Regions from separate parts of the Homo sapiens genome. Here region 2 is linked to region 1. Evidence: fine-mapped expression QTL. A gene starts in region 1. The other region holds a variant in brackets. All regions are shown on one strand. Distances are between the middles of the regions. Region 1 holds the start of MIR210HG (MIR210 host gene). Region 2 overlaps CDHR5 (cadherin related family member 5).

Region 1 (2,894 bases):
TGCCCTAGGAGCCTCTGCCCTGCCATGAAGACGTGGGCCTTCTCAGGGACCCCACTGACTCTTAGAGGCTCCTTCACGACCCACAGGATCGAGGTCTTGCTGACCCCTGACCCCCAATAGAACCGAGTGGCTCCGTGATCCTCTGGGCACCTTCCCCATCCACAGGCAGCCACAGGTGCAAGGAGCCACTCGGTTCTATCGGGGGCCAAGGGTCAAGGGGTCAGCAAGACCTCGGTCATGTCTTGCTGATCATGTCTGAGTCACCCCAGACTCTGCATCTGAATTTTTGTCCCCAGCCTTCAAGCCCCTGAGGACATGGGCTGGTTCGGAAGCTCCCTGGGGCCCCAGCACTTTGCCGCCGGGGCTGGGGCAGGGGGCAGGCTGCGGCCCAGGCCTGCGCGGATGCCGAGGCAGGGAGGTCATGGGGCCAGGGGAGGACAAAGAGCAGGGCGGTGAGTTTAGGGCCAGGGAGCTGAGGGGAGACGGCCCGGGGCCGAGGACCAGGGTGACAGTGCCAAGGGGGGCCGGCGGCCAAATCTCCTTTGGCTGCCACTTTGGAGCCCCACCCCGGAGTCCGATACTTCCACGTCTGAAGCTGGCCCTGCGAGTCCTAACGAAGGTCAAACCGTCAAGGCTCCTTTGATTTTACACGTTTTCAGCGCACAGACAGGATTCTCTCGCCTCGTCCCCTCAAAGACCGGCACAGGGCTGCGAAGACCCCTGAGCCCTTGAGGCACCCCCTCCAGGCTCCAGAGGCTTCCGCGGAGACAGAGCGCGCAGGAGGGACCCAGAGCCCCCAAGGGCGCCCCGTGGGGGTCGCCAGGCAAACCAGGCAGAGCCAGAGCCCCCTCTTCGCCAGCAGGACGGACCCGGGCGTCCTTTGGGGACCCCAAGCCGCCCGGGGGGTGGTGCGTGCGTCCCGAGGACGCCGTGTCCGGGCCCGCGCAGGCCCCACCCGGGTCACGGCCCGGGATACGTGCGCCGGGCGCCCAGCGGGTTGGGGGGGGCGGGCCCGCGGGACGCGGGTGCGGGGCACGGAGGCGGCCGGGTCGTACCACCGCGCCGCGGGAAGAGGGGCAGCTCCCGGCCGGCCCTGCCGCCCCACGCACACCCGCGGGCGGAGGACCCGTCGCCAGGCTGCGCCCCACGCCCAGCCCGGAAGCCCCGCGAGCCCGGGCCATACCACCGCGCGGCGGGAGGAGGACCACCTCGGGCCGTACCATCCGCCCGGCCGGGGGACGCGCCCTGGCCCCGCCGCGCCCTCGCAGCTGGCGCCCCGCAGGCCCCGCCCGGCAGGTGCCGCCCCTCCCCGGGCAGACGTGCAGAAAAGAACGCGCCGGCCTCGCCCGCGAAGGGCCGCGCGGCGGTGGGCGGGGCGTCGCGAACCCCCCTCGCGCCCACTGGCTGCGTTGCGGTAGGGCGGGCCCGGCTAGGCCGGCCATTGGCTGAGGGACCAGGTCATTTGCATACGGGGCTGGGCGTGGAGCCGCGGGGCCCGGGGCCGGTCGGGTCGGGCCGGGGGGCGAGAGGGTGCCAGCGGCCGCAGCTGAAGTTGGGCCGAGAGCCGGCGACGGCCCCGCGCCGGGGTCGCAGGTGACGCGCGAGGGATCCCAGGTTGGCGGGCGGGGCGCCCCTCAGAGGCCGCCCTCCCGCGGGGGCTGCGGGGGGTCGGGCTGGGCAGGCGCGGCGGGGCTCGGACGCCCAAGTTGGAGGGGACGGGGGTGGGGTCAATCCCTCCGCCCGCCCACCCGGCAGTGCCTCCAGGCGCAGGGCAGCCCCTGCCCACCGCACACTGCGCTGCCCCAGACCCACTGTGCGTGTGACAGCGGCTGATCTGTGCCTGGGCAGCGCGACCCTCCTGGCCCCGTGTCCGGGTCTGGCGGGCAGGCGAGCGGCCACACGGGGACGCGAGGGCAGCTGGATACCGTGGGGAGGGGGTGCCCTATGGACGGGGTGTGCCTGTCTGGCCAGCAGGGACGGCGGGTGGGGGTAAGCGAAATCATTCGGGGGCTTTGCTGCCCTCCGCTTGGTGGGGCTGAGGCTGGGCCAGATACCCTCTTGGAGGGAACTTTCTTTTCCTTGTGTGTCCAGGGTACCAGTGTGCGGAGTTCCTGTTGCCAAGCTGAAGGTGGCCCTGGGCAGGCACAGGTGTGGTCATATCTTCAGCCAACAGGACCATCCTCCGGAGGGCCACCTCTGGGGACTTCCTACGGGAAGAGAGTGACAGATTTGGTGCTTCTGTGTGTTTCTGCCGCTTCAGTGGGGCCGCTGCGGGAGACAGCGGGTGGATCCTCCAGCAGCCTGTCTGCTGAGCCTGCCTTCTCAAGTCTACTGTTAAAATCAGGACCGGGTCGTGTCCGAGCCTACAGGCCCTGTCTCCGCTCCCCAGGCCTGCAGGAGTTGAGGGCTGCACCTGCTCGCTGGAGAGGGAGAGGCAGATTTAGTGGACGCCTGGCATGGACTCGGACTGGCCTTTGGAAGCTCCCTGCCCTGACGGGGTTGCCTGTCACCACTGCGAAGTGAGGCTTGGCAGGACCTGCACCTGAGAAAGGCTGTGTGTGGTCTTGGGGTCCACACCTGCAGAGCTAACTTACTGCCAGACGGCGACTTACTGTGGGCCACCCTCAGTGAACCGGGGTGTCCTCAGCTGGCCCTACAGAGCACTTCTGTGCTGGGGATGAGTAGGAACTCTGGGCGAGGAGGGTCCCAGCGCCGCCCCTCGATACAGCCTGGCTCTGCCCTCTGCCCGTACTTACACCAGGTGGGATCCCTGCCCTGCATTGCCTGGGGATTGGCTGGGCTTGGGCCCGCCCTGCTGTGGAACTGGATGTTTTCAGGGAGCCCAGCCTTTCCTCATGTCAACACAGTTCACAATATAGTTTTCAAAGTACAGT
Region 2 (2,894 bases), 52 kb before region 1:
TGTTCTACACCCTCCAGGAAATGACAGCAGTCAGTGCCGCCCACCCTGCCCCAGCACGAGCCCCTCGCCTCTGACACCCACAGCCGCCCTCGCCCTCCAAGGCTCTTAGGCTCTGTCCTCCCTGACCCTCCCCAGGGTGCCAGTGACTACTTCTCCCTGGTGAGTGTAAACCGTCCCGCCCTGAGGCTGGACCGGCCCCTGGACTTCTACGAGCGGCCGAACATGACCTTCTGGCTGCTGGTGCGGGTGAGCAGGTCACCCCAGCCCCGAGTCCCACACACTTGAGGCCCCCCGGCCCCAGCTGCTCCCAGGCCTGATCCAGCACAGCCGTCTGTTGCAGGACACTCCGGGGGAGAATGTGGAACCCAGCCACACTGCCACCGCCACACTAGTGCTGAACGTGGTGCCCGCCGACCTGCGGCCCCCGTGGTTCCTGCCCTGCACCTTCTCAGATGGCTACGTCTGCATTCAAGCTCAGTACCACGGGGCTGTCCCCACGGGGCACATACTGGTAATGGGGAGGGAGGGGCAGTGCACGGGGCAGGGCCTTCTAGGCAGGCTGGACACAGGGACGGCCAGGATCAGGAGAGGAAGGGCGGGGTCGGGGTCAGGGGGTGGGGCCGATTTCGGTCGTGATTTTGAAACAAATGCAGACTCTCCTTGTAAACCAACCCTTCCCATCTTGAGCGGTGAGGGAGCAAACCCTGAACACACAGGGAGGAGCGTGGGCCCCAGAGCCAGGCGGTCTCAGGGGCCTGGGGAGGTGGGCTGGGGCCCTGGAGCTCTTAAGGGATGCTGACATCTCTGCCCTGCTCACAGTCACCACTGGGCCCACACAGGCTGTCTGCAAACCTTCCTGGCACCAAGGCACCTGGGGCCACCAAACAGTACATGGGAGGCAGAAATGCAGACCCCGGGAGCCCCCACTTCCTAAATGTTTGCTTACCCGTCAAGACAAGCCTTGTGCAAATGGGACTCAGTATCTTTGGGC[C/A]ACTGGACTCATTCATTAGTAAGGGACCCACAGGGGTGTTACTGATTGTGATGCTGGGACAAGGGACTGTCCTAGGCAGGCAGGGACGCCCGGCCACCAGCGGGACTGGGCCCCTCCTCAGCCAACCCTGCCCTTGATGGGGAGTCAGAGGGGCCAGGCTGGGGCCATCCACCCCAGCCCCACGACGTGCCCTCCCTTCCGCCATCCCTGAAGCCATCTCCCCTCGTCCTGCGTCCCGGACCCATCTACGCTGAGGACGGAGACCGCGGCATCAACCAGCCCATCATCTACAGCATCTTTAGGGGTGAGTGGGGCCCAGCCCTCAACAATGCCCTGTACCCCCTCTGTCCCTGTCTCCATCCCCACCTTGGGCAGAGCTGGCTGGGTCCCTGGGCCTCAGGGGGCCGGGGCTGAGCACTTCCATCATCCTCCCAGGAAACGTGAATGGTACATTCATCATCCACCCAGACTCGGGCAACCTCACCGTGGCCAGGAGTGTCCCCAGCCCCATGACCTTCCTTCTGCTGGTGAAGGTGAGGTGGGCACCTGCATGGGGGGCAGGGCAGAGGGGGAAGGGTGGAAGGTAGGGCGGGGGGTCAGGGCTGGGGGGCCGGGGCAGGGCCCCCGCCAAGTCTGCACCTGCCTTTCCTGAGCCCCAGCCTTCAGCGCCAGCTCCACCTTCAACCCCACTAGTCACTGCTGCCTCCCCCGCCTCCAGGGCCAACAGGCCGACCTTGCCCGCTACTCAGTGACCCAGGTCACCGTGGAGGCTGTGGCTGCGGCCGGGAGCCCGCCCCGCTTCCCCCAGAGACTGTATCGTGGCACCGTGGCGCGTGGCGCTGGAGCGGGCGTTGTGGTCAAGGATGCAGCTGCCCCTTCTCAGCCTCTGAGGATCCAGGCTCAGGACCCGGAGTTCTCGGTAGAGAGTGCATCCAAGGCCTCCCCTCTGTGGGTGGGTCAGGGCTGTACGTGGGAGGCAGCCTGGCCGGGGACTCAATGAGACCCTGTCCAGGACCTCAACTCGGCCATCACATATCGAATTACCAACCACTCACACTTCCGGATGGAGGGAGAGGTTGTGCTGACCACCACCACACTGGCACAGGCGGGAGCCTTCTACGCAGAGGTGCGGGGCAGGGCAGGCGGGCATCTCCAAGGGTGTGGGGCTTAAAGATGTGTCTAGGAGGGACAAGCCCCTTCCTGCCCCAGGTTGAGGCCCACAACACGGTGACCTCTGGCACCGCAACCACAGTCATTGAGATACAAGTTTCCGAACAGGAGCCCCCCTCCACAGGTAAGCCCCCCTCCACAGGTGAGCCCCCAGGGTTCTCCAAATAAGCCCCTTCGGTGGCTCCTTTCCCGCGGTAGGTGTGCAAGGGGCGGGCAGAGGCAAGCCCAAGCACTGTTCCCGGCCCCCAGATGTCCCCCCATCCCCAGAGGCTGGAGGAACAACTGGGCCCTGGACCAGCACCACTTCCGAGGTCCCCAGACCCCCTGAGCCCTCCCAGGGACCCTCCACGACCAGCTCTGGGGGAGGCACAGGCCCTCATCCACCCTCTGGCACAACTCTGAGGCCACCAACCTCGTCCACACCCGGGGGGCCCCCGGGTGCAGAAAACAGCACCTCCCACCAACCAGCCACTCCCGGTGGGGACACAGCACAGACCCCAAAGCCAGGAACCTCTCAGCCGATGCCCCCCGGTGTGGGAACCAGCACCTCCCACCAACCAGCCACACCCAGTGGGGGCACAGCACAGACCCCAGAGCCAGGAACCTCTCAGCCGATGCCCCCCAGTATGGGAACCAGCACCTCCCACCAACCAGCCACACCCGGTGGGGGCACAGCACAGACCCCAGAGGCAGGAACCTCTCAGCCGATGCCCCCCGGTATGGGAACCAGCAC

What was found. PIP is the estimated chance that this variant, and not a neighbour inherited with it, causes the effect.
Region 2: its variant is fine-mapped to the expression of MIR210HG in whole blood (TOPMed, PIP above 0.99).

Annotation. Positions count from the first base shown.
Region 1 is chr11:567,051-569,944 of GRCh38, reverse strand. MIR210HG (MIR210 host gene) reads left to right here and starts at 1,488. Exons shown (of 2, transcript NR_038262.1): 1 at 1,488-1,593; 2 at 2,092-2,894. It overlaps MIR210 (microRNA 210), which reads left to right and starts at 1,747; the gene lies at 1,747-1,856. RefSeq lists an enhancer at 1-556.
Region 2 is chr11:618,697-621,590 of GRCh38, reverse strand. CDHR5 (cadherin related family member 5) reads left to right here. Exons shown (of 15, transcript NM_021924.5): 5 at 1-29; 6 at 136-246; 7 at 341-511; 8 at 1,205-1,295; 9 at 1,427-1,524; 10 at 1,710-1,910; 11 at 2,004-2,117; 12 at 2,201-2,285; 13 at 2,411-2,894. Among named protein-coding and RNA genes, the nearest start is that of IRF7, 4.2 kb to the right of the region's middle. RefSeq lists an enhancer at 887-1,492. The variant C/A (reference allele first, on the strand shown) is at 992.